4 linked regions of the Homo sapiens genome follow. The protein of the gene in region 4 interacts with the protein of the main gene of each other region in a pairwise test. Each region holds a gene or a part of one and is shown on either strand. Other genes may lie near its edges.

The links.
Region 1: the proteins of AJUBA (region 4) and ZNF512B interact in binary tests that used the Homo sapiens proteins (3 or more experiments, as listed by UniProt).
Region 2: the proteins of AJUBA (region 4) and FARS2 interact in binary tests that used the Homo sapiens proteins (3 or more experiments, as listed by UniProt).
Region 3: the proteins of AJUBA (region 4) and TFAP4 interact in binary tests that used the Homo sapiens proteins (3 or more experiments, as listed by UniProt).

Annotation. Positions count from the first base shown.
Region 1 is NC_000020.11:63,959,931-63,966,955, reverse strand, and holds part of ZNF512B (zinc finger protein 512B), read left to right. Parts: coding exon 1-80; intron 81-174; coding exon 175-815; intron 816-947; exon of another isoform or gene 948-1,400; coding exon of another isoform or gene 1,401-1,444; intron 1,445-1,452; exon of another isoform or gene 1,453-2,051; coding exon of another isoform or gene 2,052-2,092; intron 2,093-2,239; coding exon 2,240-2,466; intron 2,467-2,560; coding exon of another isoform or gene 2,561-2,564; coding exon 2,565-2,636; intron 2,637-2,738; coding exon 2,739-2,885; intron 2,886-3,042; coding exon 3,043-3,167; intron 3,168-3,245; coding exon 3,246-3,338; intron 3,339-3,515; coding exon 3,516-3,614; intron 3,615-3,690; coding exon 3,691-3,861; intron 3,862-4,174; coding exon 4,175-4,369; intron 4,370-4,581; coding exon 4,582-4,683; intron 4,684-4,951; coding exon 4,952-5,014; intron 5,015-5,548; coding exon 5,549-5,647; intron 5,648-6,816; coding exon 6,817-7,025. UniProt on the Homo sapiens protein: Involved in transcriptional regulation by repressing gene expression. Associates with the nucleosome remodeling and histone deacetylase (NuRD) complex, which promotes transcriptional repression by histone deacetylation and nucleosome remodeling.
Region 2 is NC_000006.12:5,362,503-5,369,527, reverse strand, and holds part of FARS2 (phenylalanine--tRNA ligase, mitochondrial), read right to left. Parts: intron 979-7,025; 5' UTR 958-978; coding exon 346-957; intron 1-345. UniProt on the Homo sapiens protein: Is responsible for the charging of tRNA(Phe) with phenylalanine in mitochondrial translation.
Region 3 is NC_000016.10:4,256,686-4,263,048, reverse strand, and holds the end of TFAP4 (transcription factor AP-4), read left to right. Parts: intron 1-347; coding exon 348-513; intron 514-626; coding exon 627-725; intron 726-1,099; coding exon 1,100-1,270; intron 1,271-2,453; coding exon 2,454-2,594; intron 2,595-2,803; coding exon 2,804-2,959; intron 2,960-4,799; coding exon 4,800-4,994; 3' UTR 4,995-5,863; downstream 5,864-6,363.
Region 4 is NC_000014.9:22,979,528-22,986,719, reverse strand, and holds the start of AJUBA (LIM domain-containing protein ajuba), read left to right. Parts: upstream 1-4,168; 5' UTR 4,169-4,453; coding exon 4,454-5,459; intron 5,460-7,192.

The sequences.
Region 1 (7,025 bases), on a different chromosome or scaffold from region 4:
TGAAGTGTCCAAACTCAGGGTGCTGGCTGGAGTTCCCCAGCATCTACGGGCTCAAGTACCATTACCAGCGGTGCCAAGGGGTAAGGGACTGTGGGTCGGGGGAGAGGAGGCCTCGGGGTGTGTTTGGGCAGAGGCCCTTGGGGCCCTGTCCCAAACCTTCCCTTCCCTGCCCAGGGTGCCATCTCAGATCGCCTGGCCTTCCCCTGCCCCTTCTGCGAGGCCGCATTCACCTCTAAGACCCAGCTGGAGAAACACCGGATCTGGAACCACATGGACCGACCCCTGCCTGCCTCCAAGCCTGGGCCCATCAGCAGGCCGGTCACCATCAGCCGGCCTGTTGGGGTCAGCAAGCCCATCGGAGTGAGCAAACCTGTCACTATTGGCAAACCTGTGGGTGTCAGCAAACCCATTGGCATCAGCAAGCCAGTCTCGGTCGGCAGACCCATGCCAGTCACCAAGGCCATCCCGGTCACTAGGCCCGTGCCAGTCACCAAACCTGTCACAGTCAGCAGGCCCATGCCCGTCACCAAGGCCATGCCGGTCACCAAACCCATCACAGTCACCAAGTCTGTGCCGGTCACCAAACCCGTACCTGTCACCAAACCCATTACGGTAACAAAGCTTGTGACAGTTACGAAACCCGTGCCGGTCACCAAGCCAGTGACAGTCAGCAGGCCCATTGTGGTCAGCAAGCCGGTGACAGTCAGCAGGCCCATTGCTATCAGCAGACACACACCGCCCTGCAAAATGGTGCTGCTGACCAGGTCGGAGAACAAAGCACCTCGTGCCACAGGGAGGAACAGTGGTAAGAAAAGGTATGGGGGCTCGTCCCAGGTCGGGGAGGAACAGTGGTAAGAAAAGGTATGGGGGCTCGTCCCAGGTCAGGGAGGAACAGTGGTAAGAAAAGGTATGGGGGCTCGTCCCAGGTCGGGGAACAGTGGTGAGAAAAGGTATGGGGGCTCGTCCCAGGTCGGGGAGGAACAGTGGTGAGAAAAGGTATGGGGGCTCGTCCCAGGTCAGGGAACAGTGGTAAGAAAAGGTATGGGGGCTCGTCCCAGGTCAGGGAACAGTGGTGAGAAAAGGTATGGGGGCTCGTCCCAGGTCGGGGAACAGTGGTAAGAAAAGGTATGGGGGCTCGTCCCAGGTCGGGGAGGAACAGTGGTAAGAAAAGGTATGGGGGCTCGTCCCAGGTCGGGGAGGAACAGTGGTAAGAAAAGGTATGGGGGCTCGTCCCAGGTCGGGGAGGAACAGTGGTAAGAAAAGGTATGGGGGCTCGTCCCAGGTCAGGGAACAGTGGTGAGAAAAGGTATGGGGGCTCGTCCCAGGTCGGGGAGGAACAGTGGTGAGAAAAGGTATGGGGGCTCGTCCCAGGTTGGGGAGGAACAGTGGTGAGAAAAGGTATGGGGGCTCGTCCCAGGTCGGGGAGGAACAGTGGTAAGAAAAGGTATGGGGGCTCGTCCCAGGTCGGGGAACAGTGGTAAGAAAAGGTATGGGGGCTCGTCCCAGGTCGGGGAACAGTGGTGAGAAAAGGTATGGGGGCTCGTCCCAGGTCAGGGAACAGTGGTGAGAAAAGGTATGGGGGCTCGTCCCAGGTCGGGGAACAGTGGTGAGAAAAGGTATGGGGGCTCGTCCCAGGTCGGGGAACAGTGGTGAGAAAAGGTATGGGGGCTCGTCCCAGGTCGGGGAACAGTGGTGAGAAAAGGTATGGGGGCTCGTCCCAGGTCGGGGAACAGTGGTGAGAAAAGGTATGGGGGCTCGTCCCAGGTCGGGGAACAGTGGTGAGAAAAGGTATGGGGGCTCGTTCCAGGTCAGGGAACAGTGGTGAGAAAAGGTATGGGGGCTCGTCCCAGGTCGGGGAACAGTGGTGAGAAAAGGTATGGGGGCTCGTCCCAGGTCGGGGAGGAACAGTGGTGAGAAAAGGTATGGGGGCTCGTCCCAGGTCAGGGAACAGTGGTGAGAAAAGGTATGGGGGCTCGTCCCAGGTCGGGGAACAGTGGTGAGAAAAGGTATGGGGGCTCGTCCCAGGTCAGGGAACAGTGGTGAGAAAAGGTATGGGGGCTCGTCCCAGGTCAGGGAACAGTGGTAAGAAAAGGTATGGGGGCTTGTCCCAGGTCGGGGAACAGTGGTGAGAAAAGGTATGGGGGCTCGTTCCAGGTCAGGGTGCTCCTCGGCCACGGCCTGGGGGTAATGGGGCCCACAGTTAGGCCCTCCTGGCCCTCACCTCACCTGCTCCCTGCAGGGCTGCGGACAGCCTGGACACCTGCCCAATTCCACCCAAGCAGGCCAGGCCAGAGAATGGGGAGTACGGCCCCTCCTCCATGGGCCAGAGCTCGGCCTTCCAGCTGAGTGCAGACACCAGCAGTGGCTCCTTGTCGCCAGGCAGCAGGCCGTCAGGGGGCATGGAGGCACTGAAGGCTGCAGGCCCTGCGTCCCCGCCTGAGGAGGACCCGGAGCGCACAAAGCACAGTAAGATGAGAGCTCCAGGGGTGGCGGCCGGGGCAGGCTCGGCCTCCTGACGGTTATTTCACCAGAATCTTGGCCCCCGTTTTCTCTCCCCGAGTCAGGAAGGAAACAGAAAACACCCAAAAAGTTTACAGGGGAGCAGCCATCCATCTCAGGGACCTTTGGGCTCAAAGGTAAGACCCCAGCCCGGTGTGCACCTCCAGGGCTGGGGCTGTCCACCGAGTGACAGCCCCTGAGCCCATCCCTGTTTCTCTCCACCCCATGTGTGCACACAGGCCTGGTCAAAGCTGAGGACAAGGCCCGAGTTCACCGCTCCAAGAAGCAGGAGGGGCCAGGCCCTGAGGACGCCCGGAAGAAGGTGCCAGCTGCCCCCATCACTGTCAGCAAGGAGGCACCGGCCCCTGTGGCCCACCCAGCTCCAGGTAGGGGCTGCCTGGCAGGGGCTCAGGGCAGCTCTAGACGGCGGGTAGATCCCACAGCACAGGGATGGGGGCTGAGTGTGGAGACTGGATTCTGTGCCTGGCGTCTGGGCCACCCAGCAGCCCCCACAAGCCTTCGAGGCCCCTGCCTTACCCACAGGTGGCCCTGAAGAGCAGTGGCAGAGGGCCATCCATGAGCGCGGGGAAGCCGTCTGCCCCACCTGCAACGTGGTCACCCGGAAGACTCTCGTGGGGCTTAAGAAGCACATGGAGGTGTGTCAGAAGGTAAGGCAGCTCCCGGAAGGCGCTGGGAGGGAGGCGCCCTGGCCCCAGGCAGGCTTCTCACATGTGGGCCATCTGCAGCTTCAGGATGCACTCAAGTGCCAGCACTGCCGGAAGCAGTTCAAGTCCAAAGCCGGCCTCAACTACCACACTATGGCCGAGCACAGTGCCAAGGTACCGTCGGGCCCCCAGCTCCCGTCCAGCGTGACCTCTGACCTCGCACCCCACCTTCACCGCAGTGCCCCCGGTTTCTAACCTCGGACAACGGTGGCCCAACACCTGGGCGGGGCGGGGCCAGGGCAGGGCTCCGTGGCGATGGTGCCGGGTCACCGATGCTCACCCTGTCCCCAGCCCTCTGACGCCGAGGCCTCCGAAGGGGGCGAGCAGGAGGAGCGCGAGAGGCTGCGCAAGGTGCTGAAGCAGATGGGACGGCTGCGCTGCCCCCAGGAGGTCAGTGGGGGGCCGCGGCAGTGTGGGGTGGGGGGGCCCTGCTGGCCACTCACCCACCCTCTGGCCTGACCCCCAGGGTTGCGGGGCTGCCTTCTCCAGCCTCATGGGCTACCAGTACCACCAGCGGCGCTGCGGGAAGCCGCCCTGCGAGGTGGACAGCCCCTCCTTCCCCTGCACCCACTGTGGCAAGACGTACCGATCCAAGGCTGGCCACGACTACCACGTGCGCTCGGAGCACACGGCCCCCGTGAGTGGCTCTCTGTTCTGTGGCACAGTGCTTGTTCCTGTGTGCCGTGTGTGTTCCGTGTGCCTTGGGTGCCAACTGTATTTGTCCATGTACCGCCCAACGCGTGTGTTTCCCACCCCTCTCTGTAAGAGACGTGTGTCCTGGTGGGCGGGAGGGTGAAACCTCCGTGTTCCCTCGGGTTGCCTGCGTCAGCCATGTCCCCAGCACACTGGGAGGCCTGTGGGTCCACCGGCCTTAGGGTGGCCTCGCCGCGCGCTGACCTGACTCTTGCTCCCGCGGCTCACTCTAGCCTCCATGCCTTCCTGCCCTCCAGCCCCCTGAGGAGCCCACAGACAAGTCCCCTGAGGCTGAGGACCCGCTGGGTGTGGAGCGGACCCCAAGCGGGCGTGTCCGCCGCACGTCGGCCCAGGTGGCGGTGTTCCACCTGCAGGAGATAGCGGAGGACGAGCTGGCCCGCGACTGGACCAAGCGGCGCATGAAGGATGACCTTGTGCCCGAGACCGCACGGGTGAGCTGCCCCCCCCAGGGCTGTGGACAGCGCCGTGGCCTCTGCGTGGGGCATGCCTTGGCCTGAGACTTGGGACAGCCACTGCTGTGACCTGGGCCACCCGCTGCCCCCGCCATCTGCGGCGAGTGTCGCCTGCTGCCGAGGCGAGTGTTCTTAGAGCAGCTGGGGTGTCTTCTGGCCTCAGGCTCACCCTGGTGCTGTCGAATTCACAGCTCAACTACACTCGACCAGGGCTCCCCACGCTGAACCCCCAGCTGCTAGAGGCATGGAAGAATGAAGTGAAGGAGAAAGGCCACGTCAACTGTCCCAACGACGTGAGCGGAGGCAGCCGGGTGGGGGGCGTGGGGAGCCATACAGGGCCAGAGCCTGGGTGTGGCCCTCTGAGCAGGAACAGAGGCTGAGAGCTTTCAGGAGGTGCCCAAGCCCACCCCAGGCCTCACATGCCCAGCCTGCCCAGTCCCCAGGACTCACACCCCCTCACTTGCCCCAAAGAGCCTCAGAGATCCCCTGGGGTAGGGCAGGGGTATATCTTGGTGTGGGGTGCCCACCAGAGGCCTTCGCCCACGGCTCCCTTCCCTGCAGTGCTGTGAAGCCATCTACTCCAGCGTGTCCGGACTCAAGGCTCATCTCGCCAGCTGCAGTAAGGTCAGTTCTGGGGCCTGCCCCACGGCCAGGTGCGCTGCACTCAGAGCTCCCAGCTCACCCCACGCGGGCTTCCCACACAGTAGTGAGGGACCCTGCCTTGTCCCCTACTTTTTCTACGTGGCCTCCTCTTCCACGAACCCAGAGACTGGCCGGTGGCTGATGGCCAGCCTAGGACACCTCCCTCGCCCCAACCCCAGCCACAAGACAACGAGTCCTAGTCCTGTCCTTGGAGCTCTGCGTCCATGTAGGCATGGGTGGGCACCCCGACCCACGCAGATGGCACACTGGCTTACAATAAGGGATGCTCGGCAAAGGTCTGCAACTCTTCCCCTGGGCACCTGCCTCTCCCTACCCTTCCTCTCCCCTACCACCCCTGCCGCCCTGGTAACTCAGTGGCCCCCTGCATTGTCTGGCACAGACAGCCACAGCTTTCCTTGGGCCACCGCTGACTCTGACCCTTTAGCCATGAGTAGGGGCTTAGGACAGATCTGGGTCCTCCAAGGGCTGGGGCACTGGCCTGCCTATGCATTGCAGGGGGCCCACCTGGCAGGGAAGTACCGCTGTCTGCTGTGTCCGAAGGAGTTCAGTTCTGAGAGTGGCGTCAAATACCACATCCTGAAGACCCACGCAGAGGTGCGAGGGCCATCACCAGGGCCTGTGGCTGGGGGCTAGCCCAGGAGGGGACAGGGCTGGGGTTGGGCACCCCTTGGGGGTAGAGAGGTCAGTGGCCTGCATGGGGTGTGCCTGGGAGAGTGGCCAATGTGGAGAAATCTGGTAGTTTCTCCTCAAAGTGGGGTCTGGCTTCCCTGGGAGAACTGGGAGGCTTGCACCCTGAGCTGGAGCTGCCCTCGGGGTGTCCGCCTTTCCAGCCCCCAGCAGCCCTGCTGCAGGTGCTTGCCTGGTCCCGAAGGCTGTGTCCAGCCCTGCTGCAGGTGCTTGCCTGGTCCCGAAGGCTGTGTCCAGCCCCCTGCAGGTGCTTGCCTGGTCCCGAAGGCTGTGTCCAGCCCCCTGCTGCAGGTGCTTGCCTGGTCCTGAAGGCTGTGTCCAGCCCCCTGCTGCAGGTGCTTGCCTGGTCCTGAAGGCTGTGTCCAGCTCCCTGCAGGTGCTTGCCTGGTCCTGAAGGCTGTGTCCAGCCCTGCTGCAGGTGCTTGCCTGGTCCTGAAGGCTGTGTCCAGCCCTGCTGCAGGTGCTTGCCTGGTCCCGAAGGCTGTGTCCAGCCCCCTGCAGGTGCTTGCCTGGTCCCGAAGGCTGTGTCCAGCCCCCTGCTGCAGGTGCCTGCCTGGTCCCGAAGGCTGTGTCCAGCCCTGCGGCAGGTGCCTGCCTGGTCCTGAAGGCTGTGTCCAGCCCTGCGGCAGGTGCCTGCCTGGTCCTGAAGGCTGTGTCCAGCCCTGCGGCAGGTGCCTGCCTGGTCCTGAAGGCTGTGTCCAGCCCTGCGGCAGGTGCCTGCCTGGTCCTGAAGGCTGTGTCCAGCCCCCTGCTGCAGGTGCTTGCCTGGTCCAGAAGGCTGTGTCCAGCCCTGCTGCAGGTGCTTGCCTGGTCCCGAAGGCTGTGTCCAGCCCTGCTGCAGGTGCTTGCCTGGTCCCGAAGGCTGTGTCCAGCCCCCTGCAGGTGCTTGCCTGGTCCCGAAGGCTGTGTTCAGCCCCCTGCTGCAGGTGCCTGCCTGGTCCTAAAGGCTGTGTCCAGCCCTGCTGCAGGTGCTTGCCTGGTCCTGAAGGCTGACAGGTCTTCAGCTCTCAGGCTATGCCTGGCTCAGGTGCTCAGCATCCAGTCCCAGGTCTTCATCAGCGCTTTTCTCTCCCCAGAACTGGTTCCGAACATCAGCAGACCCACCTCCCAAACACAGGAGCCAGGACTCATTGGTGCCCAAGAAGGAAAAGAAGAAAAATCTGGCAGGTGGAAAGAAGCGGGGCCGAAAGCCCAAGGAGCGGACCCCAGAGGAGCCTGTGGCCAAGCTGCCCCCGCGCCGGGACGACTGGCCTCCAGGATGCAGAGACAAGGGGGCCCGGGGCTC
Region 2 (7,025 bases), on a different chromosome or scaffold from region 4:
TGTTGCACCTTCAGCCATCCTGGATTAAAGGTGAATTTGAGCCACAGACTATTCTCCATTCATAAGAAGTAACCCAGAGAATGGCGGGTCAGTATTGAGAGAAAGGATAAGGACAGACAACTGGAAACTAAGGCTTACCAATTTCTGTAGTTACTAACACAACAAAGCGGTCAAAAAGTACTGGGGCACACCTATACACAAGATGTCATTAAGTATGGATGATTCACTAAGGCAAAATAAGGCAAGCAAGGATGACTATGCTGGTCTCATCGAGCTAAATGTTAGTGACCTCAACATAAAATGTCTATGACATCCTTCAGCGATGAGAAACATCTCAAGACTCACCTCATGCTTGGAGAAGAGCCGCACGGCCTCCAGCTGGTGGAAAATAGGGTAGTGCTGGGAGTCGATCTGGTCACGCCTGTAGACATCACCCACCACCAGGAAGGCATCCAGTCCCGCGTGCAGCAAGTCCCACTGGTGTGCAGACGTGTGCGCTCTCAGCATGTGAGTCCGATTCAGGTAATAGTTGTCCCCCTTCTTCCTGCTGGGGTGATCAGCTGGGATGAGCAGGCTGTCAAAGTTCTGCCAGGTCGTGACCACTGGAGAAAGGTTGTCGTAGACCGAGAACAACGGGGTCCCAAAGCGGCCCACATACTGCTTGTAGAAGTGCTCCTTCACCCTCTCCTTGATCAGCCACAGAGGGTGATGCTGCTGGTTGTGCAGGTTCCTGCCAACTCTGGTGAGGACCTTCCGGGTGAGGTTGCTGTGGTCGTCCTGAGGGTAGGATTTGCCCAGCAGCTCCACCACACTGCCTGGAGCTCTTTGGGTGGCACACTCTGCTGCAGGAGGCCTCGATCCCCAGGCCTGGTGCTGATGGCCTCTGGAGATGTGACTGGCCTTACTCACCAGGTAGACATATGCATGGGCACCTCTCCTGAGAGCTGAGCCCACCATTGTAGAAACTTCTCACAGGTTCTGGAAAGAGCACACAGGCAAAGCACAAGTCAGGTGTCACTCTGTGGAAAGCAAGTGTGTTCTTTGCATCTCCCACCAGCTCCCTCTTGTCCTACTGGCATGTTTCCCCCACTACGACCTCCACACAGCTGAAAGAGCCAATTAAAGAAATCTGACAGACATGTGATACTTAATACACTAAATGAAAAGATTCCTGGAAGTCACTTTTATATCCCTAATCTCTAGTTGTCCTTCCTTTGTCATTCAGATCCTTGGCTTTGTAGAAAACCTCGTTTATTATGTTATCATGTCCTGAACTCGTGATGTGGAAAAAAACTGTAAACACGACAACCTTTACATTATAGAACCAAAAAACTTCAGAGAGATCCCCTAAAATACAGAACTTAATTGGACCCTATTAAGGGTCCCACTAATAAAGGAAGCAAATGATTAGACAGAGGCTTCCGAAGGAGAGTGGAAGAGAAGAGATTTAAGAGCCATCCTTCACATTTCTGCCGACCATCCTCATAACTACAGAGTTCTCTTTATCTTTGACATAGCATAACTTCTGTATTACTTCACTAGATCACAAAGTGACATTACTAATTTTTTTAAAAAGTTTTAAACAAAATACACCACTTTAGATTGTGGTTAACTTTAATATTTTAAAGATAAAATAGAAAATCTCAGGAAATATTGTACAAAGTGATAGACTATATCAATGGACAGCTGTAAATGCAAATCTTCTCACATCTGGTCATGTCACTTAAACTTAATACCTTTGTGGCATCCTCTCAATTACACCTTTGGCAAAAGGGCAAATTTCTACTACACACCCACAATTAACCAGAAACAGGACTAAACTTGTTGGGGAAGAGTGACAGAGCAGCCAGAAGGCAGAGCACTGACCTAGATTTTTAAGTAAATAAAATGCCAAACTTTACAGCTGAAAGTCACCTCAGCTGTCATCTAGTATAGGCGGTTCAAGTCACGGATGAGGTGAGAAGGACCTAAGTATAACTGGCAAAACTCTAAGGTATTGAAAGAGTTCAATAAGACAACCGCAAAGGGCTGTGAACCACTCACACAGTGTCTTCTTCCCACTGCCACAGAAGCCAGTTTTAAACTCACTCAGGGATCCCAATAAGGAGAGTCTTGAGATGTCACATCCCATTGTTCACAAATAATTTACATTCACAAACTTAAATTATAAAAATCCATCTTCTAAAATGTGGAATTCTTCCCTACCGGGCTATTTTAAAGCATACAACTATGTGGCTGTTTTACTTCAAGGGCCGTGCAATCATACCAAGAAAATATGTAACTTCATGATATGAAGCTGCATTAGCAAAGAATTATATTGTTCCAAGTCACTATCAAAAGCACAGTCTGTCCCTGGACAACACAATCCACCTGACTCCAAATTGGAACTGAGGAAATCTAGCTGCAAGTTGAATGGCTGTGCTTGTGTGTGATTGCTTCTTAGAAGCTGTGCACAGCACCTTTGTCTGAGACTGTCATCATGGGAGACATTTTCAAAGATACCCAGGAACTCTCTGGTTTTATTCACTTATGGCGTTATTTTGTCAGAGTTGTTTCAAAAGGGCTTTTGGCTGAGCTTCAACTGAAATGTCTTCCCATCTAGTGTTCAGTGACTTGTCACTGCAGTGGATATGAATTTTAAACATGCATATGCAGCCTTACACATCTTGGCACAAAATCAAACTGTTAGGTTATTAGCTACCTAGCTCAGCACCCTTGCCAAAACACAAGAAAAGCTTTCTTCCTCCCAAAGGCATATGTGTTAGACAAAGTTCAGAATTGTTCTCGGAAAGGTGCTTCTGATCCAGTTATTTGTGGGCTGCTGTCGATGCTTTTCCTTCCCAGTTTCCAGCTCTTCACACATCCAAACCCACACTTGGGTTCCATTCCCAGGGATGTGCCCCAGCCTCGTGTCCCTTCCTTGCTCTCCTCACGCAACCCCCAGCTTGCCGATGAAAGTTTGAGGTTCTTGCCCTGGTTTTCAGGCCTTCTATCTATCTGCTCAGCCCTGCTTACATTCTCCACTGTCATTCACCCCACACAGAAAAGTATCTGTCCTTTCTGTTACTATCTCTAACAGAGAGAGATGGATGACTAGGAGAGCCTTCCCACTTCTATCTGAGAAGTGACTTCCTTTCCTTCTACCTCTATCGAATTTCTCTATAAGAAATATATCATCTGGAAATACATAAGAGACCCAGGAGGATAAGACCAACGACATTCATACTTCTATTAATACATTGTTCTTCCATTTCATCCCTTCAACAGTTCTGTGATGTAAGTATTGTTCGTACCACTTTACCAACAAAGAATATAAAGCTCAAAAAGATCACGTAACTAGCATAAATTCATATGCCTAGCTAGCCATGAGACAGTTCAGAATTCTTGGCAATTCAAATATAGCTGACCCTCAAACAACATGGATTGAACTGTGCAGATCCACTTACATGCAGATTCTTTTCAGTAACAGTTACACTGAGTGTGCCTGCCCTTCCTGCCTCCCCTTCCGCCTCCCCTATCTCTTCTACCTCTGCCACCCCTGAGAAGGCAAGACCAACCCCTCCTCTTCCTCTTCAGCCTACTCAACATGAAGATAAGAATAAAGATCTTTAGGATGATCTACTTCCACTTAATAAATAGTAAATACATTTTCTTTCCTCATGATTTTCTTAATAACATTTTCTTTTCTCTAGTTTATTGTAATACAGTATATAATGCCTATAACATACAAAATATGTGTTAATCAATTGTTTATGTTATCAGTAAAGCCTCCAGTTAACAATTAATAGTTAAGTTAGGGGAAGTCAAAAGGTATACAGGAATTTTCAACTGACTGAGGGAGGGTAATCAGTTGTCCAGGGGTCAAGTGCATTTCTCAGTAGGGTGTGGTGGCTCACGCCTATGATCCTAACACTCTGGAAGGCCAAGGCGAAAGGATCACTTGGGCCCAGGAGTTTGAGAGCAGCCTGGGCAACATGACAAGACCCTATCTCTACAAAAAAAAAAAAAAAAAAAAAATTTTATTTAATAAATTAGCCGGGTATGGTGGCACACACCTGCAGTCCCAGCTACTGGGGAGCTAAGGCAGGAGGACTGCATGAACCCAGGAGTTCAGGCTTCAGTAAGCCAGGATTGCACCACTGCACTCCAGCTTGGGTGACAGAGTGAGACTCTGCCTCACTAAAAAAAAAAAAAAAAAAAAAAAAAAAAAGAAAGTATACTTCTCAATCAAAGGTCCAAGATTGTTAAGTTCAAATGGTATCTCTGCAAGGACCTCCCTTAACTTCTATTTTATCTAATTGAGATTATACATCAATGTGTTTTTAAATACATAAATAAATGCATGAATAAGTAAATCCAATAAAACACATTAGCTTAGATAGTAAAAATGAAATAAGTATTTACAGACCCAAGGGCCAAATCTGCCCACAGTAGTCTGTTTGGGGTTTTTTTTTTTGGCTTTGGCTTTTTTTTGTTTCTGAGACAGGGTCTTACTCTGTCACCCAGGCTGGAGTGCAGTGGGATGATCATGGCTTACTGGAGCATCAACCTCCCAGACTCAAGTGATCCTCCTGTCTCAGGCTCCAGTGGCTCCCTGCCCCAGAGATAGCTAGGACTACAGGTGCAAGCCACTATGCCCGGCTAGCTTTTGTATTTTTTGTAGAGATGAGGTTTCGCCACATTGCCCAGGCTGGTCTCAAACTCCTGCCTCAAGTGAGCTGCCCACCTCAGCCTCCCAAAGTGCTGGGATTACAGGCTTAAGCCATCGTGCCTTGCCCATAGTCTGTTTTTACAAATAAAGTTTGTTGGAACACAGCAACAGCCATTTCTTGATTTATCATTTGCCATGGCTTTCTTGCTATCAAGGTAAGATTGAATAGCTGCTATAGAGATTGTGTTGCTCACAAAGCCTAAATACTCACTCTCTGGTCTGTTATAGAGTTTGCTGAGCCCTGTTTTAGCTTAACCTACTGAAAAATTTTTCTACACTATTAATAAAATCTTCCTAGTCACAAATATATGTAGATTATAAAGTCACAAAAAAGGAGCAAGAATACAAATGTGGACGTGAAGTATGTTAGCACTGGTACAAAAGAAACAATCAGACCAACTATAAGAAGAGAAAATACAATATAATGGGCAATAGGCCAGACTTCGCAGAGATACTAATGTTGGTTTGATCCTAGGTTGATCTCTTAGGTGCCATGTATCATCCTTAGAAACGTTATTTGACCCTTCTGGCCTCAAGGTTCTCATCTGTAAAACAGAGAAATATAATACTTATCTCATAATGAAAAGATTATACTAGATCATGTTCATCAGCTAATTAACTCATTGCCCAGTGTGTAACGGGTAAGATGAGCTGAATTCAGGGTTAAAAGTGACCCAGAGATTTCTAGAGATCGGGTAACGGATGAACTAATAAAGTCATTCACTGACACAGAGAACTCAGAATGGATTTTTGTTGTTTGTTCAGATCATCTTTTGTAGAGGGAAACAGATTTGGACAATGGAAGTTCAGTATGAATGAGATAGCCACATTACAATTTCTGTAAGGCAATTCGAGTTATATTATAGTTTGGAAATGAGGTAAGACATTAATCCTGGAAATGTAGACCTTGGAGGTAATTTGCATAGACGTAAGAGTTAATATCACAAGCGTATATAAGAATCCATGGGAGGCTAAGAGCAAGATATAAGTGGGCAAAAGATAGAAGAATACTTGGAACTTATCATATTTAAGGGAAGGGGATGTAAGGAGTAAGACAGAGGGGACGTAAAGGGTGCCACAGCACAGAAGTCAGGGGAAAAGACATCTAGAAGGAAACGGGCCTGTTTCCTGGACCCAAATACCACTCAATGTGCAATGTTTAGCATGCCGTATTATTACTACCTGCTGTTGTCTGTATTCCTACTAGCCTGTGTGGTTCTTGAGAGTAGAACACACAAACACATATATATACACATACTCTTTCTCTCCTCTCTCTCTTATATTTATCATCGTATGCCCATAATCTAGCACTACATGTGATGCTGGGTGGAAGACGCGGGAAGAAGAGAAATAGGAAGAAAAAGAAAAGAATGGAAGGAAATTGGTCAGCAAAAACAAAACAAAGAAGGCTGCCTCTTTGGAAGGGGCAGTAAAGAACTATTTAAAAACTCAATAGAGTGAAGAGACAACTCACAGAATGGGAAAAAGTATTTACAAGCCATGTATCTGGGAAAAAGCTAATGTCCAAAATACATAAGGAACTCACGCAACTCAACAGCAAGAAAGCAAATAACTTAAAAATGGGCAAAGGGGCTGGGCGAGGTGGCTCATGCCTGTAATCCCAGCACTTTGGGAGGCCGAGGTGGGTGGAGCATGAGGGCAGGAGAACGAGACCATCCTGGCTAACACGGTGAAACCCCATCTCTACTAAAAATATAAAAAATTAGCCAAGCATGGTGGCGGGCACCTGTAGTCCCAGCTACTTGGGAGGCTGAGGCAGGAGAATGGTGTGAACCCAGGAGGCAGAGCTTGCAGTGGGCCGAGATCGCGCCACTGCACTCCAGCCTGGGCGACAGAGTGAGACTCCATGTCAAAAAAAAAAAAAAAAAGAAAGAAAGAAAAATGGGCAAAGGATCTGAATAAAGATTTCTGAAAAGAAGACATATAAATGGTCAATAGGTATGTGAAAAAAAATCCTCAAAATCACTAGTCATCAGAGAAATGCAAATCAAAAGCACAATGAGATAGATACACTTTACACCTGTTAGAACCGCTATTACCAAAAAGAAAAGGTAAGTGTTGGTGAGGATGTGGAGAAAAAGGAACCACTGTACACTGTTGGTGGGAATTTAGAGGAGTATAACCATTATGGGAAATAGTATGGAGGTTCAAAAAAATTTAAAAATAGAACTATTAACATATGATCCAGCAATCCCACTTCTGTGTATATAACACAGGAAATGAAATCAGCATGTCAAAGAGACATCTGCACCCCCTTGTTCACTGCAGCATTATTCACAATGGCCAAGATATG
Region 3 (6,363 bases), on a different chromosome or scaffold from region 4:
AGGCATGCACCACCACACCTGGCTAATTTTATTTTTTTGTAGAGACAGGGTCTCACTACGTTGCCTAGGCTGATCTCAAACTCTTAGGCTCAATGATCCTTGGCCTTGACCTCCCAAAGAACTGGGATTACTGTGCCTGGCCCGGGGTGGGTTCTGAGCGGACTATCTTACCCGCAGCCAGCTGATTCAGTCCGCCCCGGTGTCCCAGAGAGCACCCCTCCATCACTCTCTGGGGGTGGCCTGGCATCTTTTGCAGCAGGGGAGGGATGCAGTTTCCACTGGGGCCCTCTGGAGATGAATGATGAAGAGGGCGCCTTGGCCGAGCCTGTCCCTGTCCTCTCTGGCAGCCTTGCCAACATTCCACTAACCCCCGAGACTCAGCGGGACCAGGAGCGGCGGATTCGGCGGGAGATCGCCAACAGCAACGAGCGGAGACGCATGCAGAGCATCAACGCGGGATTCCAGTCCCTCAAGACCCTCATCCCCCACACAGACGGAGAGAAGCTCAGCAAGGTGGGTGAGAGCAGGGAGGGCTTCCTGGAGGAGCCGGCAGGTTCCCGCTGGGAGAGGAAAGTGAGCTCTGGTAAACACTGCCAGCCTGACTCTCGGCTTTTCCACGCCCTCAGGCAGCCATTCTCCAGCAGACAGCCGAGTACATCTTCTCCCTGGAGCAGGAGAAGACCAGGCTCTTGCAGCAGAACACACAGCTCAAGCGCTTCATCCAGGTGCGCCCTGTCCTTCATGGCTCCCTCTCCCTGGCATGGGCATGCCTTGGACCCAGCCATGGGCCTGGGACTCAGGTGTGGCTGCAGGCCCCTTCTTGCCCACTGACAAGTACTTCCAGGCACTTTTTTTCCTGCCCCGGCCTCAGTTTCCCCATCGGTCAAGTGCGGTGGAGTGGGCTCTGGAAGGAGCCAGGTGACTGTTATGTAAAGCAGCCCATTCTCCTGGCATTTGGCTGGTTTGTTGGACTTGCAGAAGGGGCTCCCTAATGAAGATTCACCTGTGTTGGGCAGCTTTGGGGGGCTGCGATGGAACCCCAATCTCCGTGGTGGTACCGAGGTGTCAGGCACACTGACCGACTCCTTGGGGTCCCCAGGAGCTGAGCGGCTCGTCCCCCAAGCGACGGCGGGCAGAGGACAAGGACGAAGGCATAGGCTCCCCGGACATCTGGGAGGACGAGAAGGCGGAGGACCTGCGGCGGGAGATGATTGAGCTGCGGCAGCAGCTGGACAAGGAGCGCTCGGTGCGCATGATGCTGGAGGAGCAGGTGAGGCAGCGCCCTCTGCTGGGCACGGCGCGCGGTGCAGAGGGCGTGGAGCCTGGGGTCGCGCCTCTTGCTCTGCGGCCCTCGGTGGAGCCCTATTTACAGGAGCACCTACTGCGGTGCCAGGCCTAGGAGTGGGGAGCAAGCCAGACACGTCTCTGCCCTTGGGGGCCACCGTCTGCGTTGGGGTGGGGGAGATTAGCCAAAGGATCTCAAAAATGTAACCATGCTGTGGGAGGCCGAGGCGGGTGGATCACCTGAGGTCAGCAGATCGATACCATCCTGGCTAACACGGTGAAACCCCGTCTCTACTAAAAATACAAAAAAAAAAAAAATTAGCCGGGCGTGGTGGTGGGTGCCTGTAGTCCCCGCTGTTTGGGAGGCTGAGGCAGGAGAATGGCGTGAACCTGGGAGGCAGAGCTTGCAGTGAGCCGAGATCGTGCCACTGCACTCCAGTCTGGGAGACAGAGCGAGACTCCATCTCAAAAAAAAAAAAATGTAACCGTGATGGGCTGGGTATGGTGGCTCACACCTATAATCCCAGCACTTTGCGGGGCTGAGGTGGGAGGATCGCTTGAGCCCAGGAGTTTGAGATCAGCCTGGGAAGCATAGTGAGACTCTGTCTCTACCAAAAAAGATACAAAAATTAGCCAGGTGTGGTGGGGTGTGCCTGTAGTCCCGGTTACTCAGGAGGCTGAGCTGGGAGGATTGCTTGAGCCCAGGAGGTGGAGGCTGCAGTGAGCCATGATTGTGCCACTACACTGCAGCCTGAGTGACAGAAGGAGACCATGGCTCAAAAAAACCAAAAAACAAAAACAAAAAACCATATTGAAGGCCAGGCTGGAGCTGTGGCATCAGGAGGGGTTTTTCAAGGGACGCCCCACGGCATCTCCATGGAAGTGGGAAGTTGAGTCTCATAGTTAACCAAAGGACAGAGAAAGGTGTTCCCGGCAGAGGGAATAGCATAGGCAAAGACTCGGGCAGGAGGGAGCATGGTCCAGTGGAGGCCGAGGTGGGAGGCGAGAGGAGCCGGGGGCTGAAGGGCTCTGGAAAGGCTTCTGGCCTCTGTTGAGAGGGGCCCGCCCTGTGCTAGGGTTTTCAGCAGGAGTGAATGAGCTGCTGTGAGACTGACAGGGCAGGGTGTGCTCCCGGCCTTGGCCCTGAGCCCAGGTTGTCCTGCCTCCAGGTGCGCTCGCTGGAGGCCCACATGTACCCGGAAAAGCTCAAGGTGATTGCGCAGCAGGTGCAGCTGCAGCAGCAGCAGGAACAGGTGAGGCTGCTGCACCAGGAGAAGCTGGAGCGGGAACAGCAGCAGCTGCGGACCCAGGTGAGCAGGAGGCGCCCGGGAGTGGGCTCTGGGGACCGGGAAGGGGACAGGTGATCTTGAATGGCGGAAGCCTCTCCCTAGGCCACGTCCTCTCTGCTTCTTAATATAAAGGGGCAGAGGCAGTTATACATTGGCCAGCTCTGCATGAAAGGGAGGTGGATGGGCCAAGAGAAGCCTTGAGAGAAAGGCTGAGGGCCTCTGTCTTGCAGCTTCTGCCCCCTCCGGCCCCCACCCACCACCCCACGGTGATCGTGCCAGCACCGCCTCCTCCTCCCTCCCACCACATCAATGTCGTCACCATGGGCCCCTCCTCGGTCATCAACTCTGTTTCCACATCCCGGCAAAATCTGGACACCATCGTGCAGGTACCTGAGCTTGAGAAAGGGGCAGCTTGTGGGGGTCATACTCCGGGAACAGGCTCTTTAGGGGAGACTGGAAAAGAGGGGCAGAAGCGGAGGAAGATGGTGCTTGTGTGGGAAGGGGTGGAGGGCTGGAAGCCTTGGGGGGCCCCGTCCCTGGATCTGCAAGTGGAGAATGTGAGGGCCAGAGATCGGGGCAGGGCCTACCACGCCAGTAGGAGGAGTTGGCCAGGAAGACTGTCCCTTCCCTCAATATGGGGTTTCCGGAGAGGGTCCTTTGCTCCCAGAGCCCCCTGGTTACAGAGTTCCTGCATCCAGCTCTTGGGTTGGTCCGGAACATTGTCTCAGCTCCATCTCCTAGGACCTGGATGGAGATACAGGTGGCAGGGCTGGTGATAGTTGGGCCTCCTACAGAGGAGGAAGCTTTGTGGGTCAAGCCTGAAGTTACAGTTGCATTCACCCTTGAACAGGGCCCCTTGAGGAGCCCAAGATCAGAAATCAGTAAATAATAAATAAATAACCAAAAAAGCCAAAACAGGAAAAAAAATCCATCAATCTCCTCGAATTTTAATTGCTCATAAACTTTGCAAATTGTGTAATACAATTAATAACAAACGCCTTTAATAAGTTAATAGGCAAGCTTTAAAATACATAAACATATGGCCGGGTGTGGTGGCTCACACCTGCAATCCCAGCACTTTGGGAGGCCAAAGTGGGTGGATCACTTGAGGTCAGGAGTTCGAGACCAGCCTGGCCAACATGGTGAAAACCCCATCTCTATTAAAAATACAAAAATTAGCCTGACGTGGTGGTGCACGCCTGTAATCCCAGCTATTCGGGAGGCTGAGGCAGGAGAATCGCTTGAACATGGGAGGTGGAAGTTGCAGTGAGCTGAGATTGCACCACTGAACTCCAGCCTGGGTGACACGGTGAGACTCTTTCTCAAAAAACAAACAAACAAAAACATATGAAAGGTCCATATTATTTCTTTTTTTTTCTTTTTTTTTGAGATAGAGTTTCGCTCTTATTGCCCAGGCTGGAGTGCAATGGTGCTATCTCAGCTCATCGCAACCTCCTCCTCCCAGGTTCAAGTGATTCTCCTGCCTCAGCCTCCCAAGTAGCTGGGATTATAGGCATGTGCCACCACGCCTGGCAAATTTTGTATTTTTAGTAGGCTTCTGGCCTCTGTTGAGGGGCTGGTCTCGAACTCCTGACGTCAGGTGATCCTCCCGTCTTGGCCTCCCAAAGTGTTGGGATTACAGGCGTGAGCCACTGCGCCTGGCTGATACATATAATATAATTTCTAAGCAGCACTGGGACTGTCATCTTCCCAGAATGGATTTTTCAACTTAACAGAGGGGTTTTGAAAGTTTGTTCCTGGGTCAGGCGTGGTGGCTTATGCCTGTAATCCCGGGACTTTTGGAGGTTGAGGCAGGAAGATTGCCTGAGGTCAGGAGTTCGAGATCAGCTTGGGCAACATAGCAAGAACCCCCTCGTCTCTACCAAAAATACAGAAGTTAGCTGGGGATGGTGGCGCACCCCTGTGGTTCCAGCTACTAGGGAGGGAGCAGTAGGAGGATCGCTGGAGCCCAGGAGTCTGACTGCAGTAAGCTATGATCATGCCACTGCACTCTAGCCTGGGTGATATAGCGAGAGCTTGTCTCCAAAAAAAAAGTAAAAGGAGTTTGTTTTTCCTGTACTCTAGCGGGCCTCCCCTGCTGCTTTGCCAGGCTTTTTTCTGGGCTATGTGTTTTGGGGGTGACAGTGGCTGGCTGAGAGCCCCCACTGTCTCCTGGCTGGCCATGTATCCCCGGCCGAGCCTTCTCAGTGGTTCGTCCCTGTCCAGGCAATCCAGCACATCGAGGGCACCCAGGAAAAGCAGGAGCTGGAGGAGGAGCAGCGGCGAGCTGTCATCGTGAAGCCTGTCCGCAGCTGCCCGGAGGCCCCCACCTCTGACACCGCCTCCGACTCCGAGGCCTCAGACAGTGACGCCATGGACCAGAGCCGGGAGGAGCCGTCGGGGGACGGGGAGCTTCCCTGACTACCCCCCCAGCCCTCCTCTCCCTTCTGGGGGCTGGAGGGAGCCGGGGCAGCCACAGGGAGAGACATGGGCGAATGAGTGAGAAATTTTTACAAAATTACGATGTCATTTGGGTCTCTTTTATGACCTCTTTTTCAATACTGTAAATCGACCTTTGAACGAAGCCACTCAACCCGAGGTCCCGGGGCTGGGGTGTCGCAGAGCGTGTGGGAGCATCGGCACCCCAGGGCGGGGCCTCGGCCCCGGGGGCTGGAGGAAGCTGACACGGAGATGCCTGGCCTCTCTCTGCCAAAAAGCATTTTTTCCTTTAAATATGTTTTTTAAGAACAGGGAAAATTAAACAAAACCCCAGGTTATTTCTTCCCTGCCCAGAGCCAGCCTGGGATTGTCAGCCTTCAATCCCCTTTCCTTCCTCTTTTTGGGTTTTCTTCTTTCTCCTTTAAGCACTTACATGGTTGGGGGTAAGACTAGGCTGGGGCATTCTGGGGGCCCGGAGGTCTCCGTTGCTTCTTGGTTGGGGTTTGCTGCTGCTGTGCCCCCCTCCCCCTTCCCCATCTCGGCACTAGAATTCGCCACTCTCCCACCCCCCAGCCCCCACCTCTGCCTCCAGGTCTCATCTTCCACCCCAAAAATGTCTGTCTCTCTCTTTTTGTTTTGTTTGTTGTTGGTTTTTTATTTCTTTTTGGTTTGCTTTCTGTTTTTGTTTTGTTTTTCTTTTTTTTCTTTCTTTTTTTTTTTTTTTTACAATTTTGAGGTCTTCGTGTTCAAGGAGAAGCTATTATATTTTGTTAAGAAAGTGGGGAGAAAAAAACCAAGAGGCCACCGTGCCTTTGTAAAGAAACAAAATAAAGTTTGTACTTTGTTTTTTAGATTCTGAGTCTCCTGGGTGTGGGCTGGCCTGAAGACCAGGGCAGGGCTACCCCATCTAGAGTAGGGGGGCTCCTTGGGCCCCCCAAAGCGGACTGGGTGTGTGTGAGCACAGTTACTCCCTCAGCTTGTGTGTGGTGTTGCGATGAAAAATTGGGGTCCTCAGTTTCCCTGGGATGACCCTGGGTATTCTGTAAAGATGGAAGATGGTGTTGAGGCTGGGGAGTGGCTCTTTGGTGGGCGGCAAGGAGAGAAGGACAACCAAGCCACCGATTCCGAAAACCTGGGAAAGGACACAGGTGTTCAGGGGCCCTGCTTGGTCCCTACGCTTTGGTTAATCCCTAGGTTTTGCCACTTCCTGGGCTTCTGTAACTTCTCTGAGCCTCATCCTCTCCTCCCCTAGGAGGGGAACCCCACCCCCTCCAACCGCACCCCCCCAGCACCCCCCTGCCCCCCCGTGGTGTGGTGTTTAAGTGCTAAGATCCTGGAATTGGTCTGCCAG
Region 4 (7,192 bases):
TTCTGACCAAGGGAACACAAGTTCTATCACTATTGGGGAATTGGGTTCCTGATATAATAGCTATTGTTTATTGAATTACATGAGGAAAATTTTACTATTCCTATCTTACAGATGAGGAAATTAAGGCTTAAAGAGTTCCCGTGTCTCACCGGCAGCCTCTCTCTCACTATGTGACCAAGCAAAATACACAGCTTTGTAGCTGTTTCTTGGTCCTGTCAGCCAAGCTGTATTTTGAGGAAGGGGTGTGCATTTTGGATGGATTGAAAAGCAAAAATGGCTTTACATTTATTCAGTCTTATAACAAACATTGATCGCTTTACTAGGTGTCAGGTACTGTGCTATGGATACATTGTTGATAAGGTTGGATGCTGTTCAGAGATTTTTTTAGTTTAGTCAGGAAGCCAGGCAGTGGAGTAGGCAATGAAATGAACTGTGATAAGGGTGACCATGGTGGAGTGTAGTGCACTATGGCAATATACAGCAGGGGTAGCTAACCTACTCTTGCAGTCTGGAAAGGCTTCTTCTGAGAGGGTGTAATGTCTAAACTGGGGAAGAGTTAACCAGAAGGAAAGGGGAGGCTAAGAGAGTGTTCCAAACAGGGAACTGCAGGTACAAAAGTCCAGGGGCAAGAGAGAGTACAGACAAGGTCCAGTTCTACTGCAGACTTTTGGGGAAGGGATAATGCTAGAGGAGAGGCTGGAGAGTGAGACAGACCTCATAATACAGAGTACAGACTTCAACCCAAGGGCAGTGAGAAATCATTGAAAGTTTGTTTTAGCAGGGAAATAAAACGACAGGTTTTGCCTACAGGCAGTCCCCAACTCAACGATGGTTCGACTTAGGATTTTTCAACTTTACGATGGTGCGAAATGATTCAGTATGCTCCTCACCTTATGATGCAGTTATATCAGATAAACCCATTTTAAGCTGAAAATATGGTGAAGTTGAAGAAGCACTTCTGCCTTACGATATTTTCAATTTATAATGGATGGGTTTATTCAGACATAACTCCATTGTAAGTCGTAAAGCTTCTGTACTGAAAAAAATCACTTGACCTCAGGGTATAAGATGGATTGCAGGGAGCAAGCCTTGGCCAGGAGACTTTTGCATTGGTTTCGGAGAGGAAAGACGGTGACTTGACATATATAGTGGTGATGAGGGGAGGACAGATTTGGAAGATGTTTAGGAAGCAGAATTAATAGAACTTGGTGATTGATAGGACTTGGTTGGATTTGAGGTTAAGGGAGAAGGAGGACATAGGGTTGACGCTCAGATTTCTAGTTTAAGCAGCTAACAGGATTGTGCCATTTACTCAGAGAATGTTAGAGGAGCCAGTTTCATGAGGCAGAGAAGATGAGATCAGTTTAGGATATTGGGTGCTTCTGAGACAGCCATTGGAGATGCTAGTAGTTAGTTGAGTTTTTAATTCCAAGAAAGACTGGGCTGGAAATATGGATTAGGGAGTCACCTGCATATACAGATTATAATTAAAGTCTTGGGAACGAAGAGGGCCTTTGGAGATCCCAGCTCCAGTTTAGACTGTGGAGAGGCCACCTGAGGTCATGAGCACTATTGGAGCATGCCCTATTAGCATATGCGTCTTCTACTTCTTCCCCTTCACTCATCTCTGCTTCCAGTTATCCCTTGAAAACACAGGCTGTTCATCCCAGTTGTGCCCATTGCTACCACCAACTCTTGCATGGGCCTCCTTTAATGGCCTCCCAACATTTCATAAGATTTCCTCTCGCATCCTCACCCCAAAGGATCAAAGCTTCCAAATATTAGTAGTTGTGTGGATATTTTGGATGTAATTGGAAGGAAGAATCAAAGTTCTCCTTCCTCATCTGGACACAGGAAAGGAGGGAACACATTATGGTTAATTCTGAAGATGTTGCTCACAGCAGGTTCTAGATGCAATCCGATAGCTCCCCTCTGTTCCTAGTGCTTTCAGTCCTCCCTGCTTCCACTCTGGTAGGAAACTCTCCTCAGGATCAGAGAAAAGCCGTGGCCTTGACCAGGGAAACAGAGGCTGATTCTCAGGGGAGATGAGGTCAGGGAGACAATGCAACTAGGACGAAGAAGCCAAATAGTTTGGCACAAATTAATTTCCCAAAAGATATTAACCTCGTTTCTTTCCACATTCCCTAAGGCTACACTAAGATTATAAAAGGTGTTCAAAATGTTGAGATGAAAATAATATGCATGACTTGTTTGCATATAATTTTCATACTCATTTACTATCTAAATACAAAGGAGTCATTTTCCTTCTCCATTCTACTTCCTCCACCCCTTGCCCCTGATGTTTTAGTCTGGGCAAAAGTAGTTGGCTGGTTTTTAAAAAATTTTTTTGAGACGGAATCTCCCTCTATCGCCCAGGCCTGAGTGCAATGGCACAATCTCGGCTCTCTGCAACCTCCGCCTCCTGGGTTCACGCGATTCTTCTGCCTCAGCCTCCCAAGTAGCTGGGACTACAGGTGCACGCCACCACACCGGCTAATTTTTGTATTCTTAGTAGAGACGGGGTTTCACCATACTGGCCAGGCTGGTTGCAAACTCCTGACCTCGTGATCCCGCCGCCTCTGCCTTCCAAAGTGCTGGGATTACAGGCGTGAGCCACCGCTCCCGGCCGTTGGCTGGTATTTAATTAGGTATGTTTAGCTTCATCTAGGGTTTCTTTAAAAAAAATTATTATTTATTTTTGAGAATTTTTTTGAGACGGAGTCTTGCTCTGTCGCCCAGGCTGGAGTGCAGTGGCCGTGATATTGGCTCACTGCAACCTCTGTCTCCCGGGTTCAAGCGATTCTCCCGCCTCAGCCTCTCGAGTGGCTGGGACTATAGGCGTGCGCCACCACGCCTGGCTAATTTTTGTATTTTTAGTAGAGATAGGGCTTCACCATGTTGGCCAGGCTGGTCTGAACTCTTGACTTCAAGTGATCCGCCCGCCTCAGCCTCCCAAAGTGGTGGGATTACAGGCGTGAGCCACCGCGCCCGGCTGCTTCAGCCAGGGTTTCTTTTCCTTATTCTTGATCCTTTTAAAATAGTCAATATCAGCCTCTTTTCCATCCTGATCATTTTCATTTGCAATTTCCTCTACACGGCATTTCTTTTCTTCCTCTTAATACTTACTCTGTATCACCAGTCTTCTGTGGACCAAAACCAAAGGGAGAAGGTGTTCGCTAGCCCTAAAACCAGGCCTTCGATCTCCACAGTCACCTGAAATGAGAAAAATCTCATTTCCCAACACCAGGGGGTGTCTATCCCTCTAACTGTCCTACCCTTAAGGTAGAGATTAGTCCCAAACCTTTTCCTCACTCCTTTTCACTGCTTCTACATACACACTATATCTCTTTCCCTCCCTCTCAAAGTAGAGATTAGTCCCATTTTCCTGACTCCTTTTCACTGCTTTTACAAATCACAAAACTTTTGGGTCCAGAAGGTGGTGCCTTTTTATTGCAGTTTATCTGTTTGTCTCTCATTCTCTCTGGACAAGCTTGTCCTTTCCTTTGTCTGCGCACCCTTCGGTCTCTGCATCGTCCACACTCCTCTTTGCTCCTCAGCTCTCCCTTTCTTTCGCTACCTCTTCCCTCTTCCACCTCTCTCTGTGGGCTTCGTCGCCTTTCAGGGCTATCTTTACGTACACGTCTCTGAACCTCTTTATGCATTTGTCTTCTTTCTCTCTGTCTTCCTCTTTATGGCTCTCTCCTTGTCTCACCATTTCTGTACCAGTCTCTCTCCATCTCTCCCACAGTCCCCACGCTGGGAACAAAGTCACGGTGCTAGCGCAGAACATGCCTCCTGTCGTCCGGTCCCGGGACGCGACACATTCCACCATGCCCCTCCGCGCATTCCAACTGCAGACAAAGAGTCCCCGTCCCCTACCCCCACACTCTTTCCTATTCCAATTCTTCAGTGTTGTAGGGGCAGCTGCCCCAACTGCCCCTGCCCGCCTCTCACGTCCAGTCCGCGGGTCTCCACATCCAGGGCAGTTAGCGCCTTCCGCTGCACGCACACCAGCTATCCCTGCGCGGACACCCCCGGCGCTCTCGCACACACCGCGCTCCGCCCCCCTAGGAAAGTAGATCCGGCCAGGCAGACAAAAGTTTGGGAGAGAAGTTCGGTCTGTGGCTAGCGTGAGAGCTAGGGGGGCGGGGGCCGGGGAGAGTGGGGCAGTCGGGCGAGTCGACGCGTGAACAGATAGACCTGCGGACTGGACAGCCGCGGCCAGAGACCCTGCTAGCCCCGCTCAGCCCCAGATGCGCGGGGGGACGCAGCCCCTCCCGCTGGGGGATGCTGTGGGATTCCTGGCGCAGGGCATCCAGGCCGCCCGCTAAGCCCCTGTGCCTCCCCTGTGCCCCTGGGGAACCAGAGTCCGGCTGCAGGGAAAGAGAACCGGCCGCCGAGACGCCGCAGGGTGCCAGGCGGGGAGGGGGCGAGAGGCCCCAGGCCCGAGGGCATGGAGCGGTTAGGAGAGAAAGCCAGTCGCCTGCTGGAGAAGTTCGGCCGCAGAAAGGGTGAATCTAGCCGGTCTGGGTCTGACGGGACCCCCGGGCCGGGCAAGGGGCGCCTAAGTGGGTTGGGGGGACCTAGGAAGTCAGGGCCCCGAGGAGCTACTGGGGGACCTGGGGATGAGCCGTTGGAGCCGGCCCGGGAGCAAGGTTCCCTGGACGCTGAGCGAAATCAGCGCGGCTCCTTTGAGGCGCCGCGCTACGAAGGCTCTTTTCCCGCGGGGCCGCCGCCCACCCGGGCCTTGCCTCTACCTCAGTCGTTGCCCCCCGATTTTCGGCTGGAGCCCACGGCCCCGGCCCTCAGCCCCCGCTCTAGCTTCGCCAGTAGCTCGGCCAGCGACGCGAGCAAGCCGTCCAGCCCCCGGGGCAGCCTGCTGCTGGACGGGGCGGGGGCTGGCGGAGCTGGAGGTAGCCGGCCCTGCAGCAATCGCACCAGCGGCATCAGCATGGGCTACGACCAGCGCCACGGGAGCCCCTTGCCAGCGGGGCCGTGCCTGTTTGGCCCACCCCTGGCCGGAGCACCGGCAGGCTATTCTCCCGGAGGGGTCCCGTCCGCCTACCCGGAGCTCCACGCCGCCCTGGACCGATTGTACGCTCAGCGGCCCGCGGGGTTCGGCTGCCAGGAAAGCCGCCACTCGTATCCCCCGGCCCTGGGCAGCCCTGGAGCTCTAGCCGGGGCCGGAGTGGGAGCGGCGGGGCCCTTGGAGAGACGGGGGGCGCAACCCGGACGACACTCTGTGACCGGCTACGGGGACTGCGCCGTGGGCGCCCGGTACCAGGACGAGCTAACAGCTTTGCTTCGCCTGACGGTGGGCACCGGTGGGCGAGAAGCCGGAGCCCGCGGAGAACCCTCGGGGATTGAGCCGTCGGGTCTGGAGGAGCCACCAGGTCCTTTCGTTCCGGAGGCCGCCCGGGCCCGGATGCGGGAGCCAGAGGCCAGGGAGGACTACTTCGGTGAGTGAGAGAAGTGGTTAGGGACGGGAAGGGACCCGTCACGGTATTCGGTTCTCCACTGCCCCGACGGCCCAAAGTGCCGGTGCCCCGGGGTCCGAGGTGAAGACGCGGGACTAGGAAAGAAGCAAGAGGGATGGATGGGGGCGGCCCCAGAGCACTGTCCCCTTCCTGCTAGTTTTCAGATGAACCAGGGCTCCTTATTTCTGCTAAATTCAACCCCCCTGGTATCTCGTGAGTCCGTTTCTCAAGCATTTGAACCTCGGTTTTTTGCGGCAGGAGGCCTCGTAGGGAAGGGACCAAGTGGGGCAGTGAAGGCGCATCCCCCCCAACTTGCTCCCCCCTTTCACGGCGGTGCCCCTGGAGGTTTGTGCGCGCCGCGCCCCCACCCGGGCCCAGGCTCCGCCCGCAGGAATTCGGAGAATGCGCGGGTGGGGGGGCGGGGCAGGCTGGCCGCGTGCGTGCCGACTCCTGCCCGGGCGCTCCAGGTGCCCGCGGGCGGGGCGGCTGCCGCCGCGCGGCGGAGGGGTGGGGTTCGGGGATCGGGGGACGCTCCCTAGCATACGCGGAGTAGTGGCGGCTGTCGGGGAAATGGAGCCTGGGAGACAGGATGGAGCGCCCTGGGACCCAACTGCTGTCCCTCCCCAGTCCTGTTGGCTAGGTGCGTGCGTGGGCATTTAATCAGAGACCCAGTAGTACCAGCTTCTATTTTCCCCATCCTCCGGAAGTCAGGGTAAAAGTCATGACTACTGGGACACCATTACCTCTGGATGGATAACGACCCTGTGTTATTGCCAGAAATAACTTGGCCTTGAATTCTGCTTATAACCTCTCAGAATTCAGGCCAGAAGTAGCGCCTTACTTCCTGACACTGTTAAGGAAACCTGGTCGCTGTCTCCCTCCCCTACTCTGTTCAGGAAGTATTGATTGATTATATGTCTCAGCTATGAGGAACATTAGGGTCTTGAAAGATCTTTTAGTCAAAATTCACAGGCACTGCTACACACATAAAAAACTTCGAATCTGATTGTGATTGGAAAGAAGTGGCAGGCTTACCGCCTAAGGGCTGTGGGCCTCTTTCACTTTTCTAAGCATCTCTTCTTACCACTCATGCCCCACTCCTGGACCCCATGCTGTAGAACTCTATGGCTAGAAAAGTGAATAGGAAGAGGAACGCGGCCAGGGAGGGATGGTTGGGTAGGAGGTTCAGAGGTAGCAGGGCGGCAGGCTATAAGGGCATAACTCAACCCCCAGCCTCCACCCCCATTCTTTTCCCCACCTCCAAATCCACCGAGAGGAAAGCCCAGAGGAGATGATGCCAAACCGCTTTGATCAAGGAAGACTGAATGACAGGGCCCATTTAGCAGTTTCATTTTGAGGCCCAGGAGAGGTGGCTAGTAAAGAAGTCTTTTTGGCTGAACCATCAGAGCCAAAAGGAAGAAAGGAACTCAGAGAAACTGCAATAAAATGGCAGGAAGAACATAGGTATAGATATGCTGGGTTAGAGGAGGTGAGGCCAACGTGCCTGAGCAGTTTCGTTTGCTTTTCCCATAACGTCCAAGGTTTCCTAAAGAATGGCTCCGACAGGACCCCCTGGCATGGCAATCTTGGGGCAGATCTTCACTTCCATGAGGAAGCCACATTTTGAATTCAGAGATGGGGGCCCCTTCTCCTTGGGAGTCAGGTTGCCTCCTTTGACAGAACCCCTACATACCCCTTGTGCCGCTAGCCCCAGC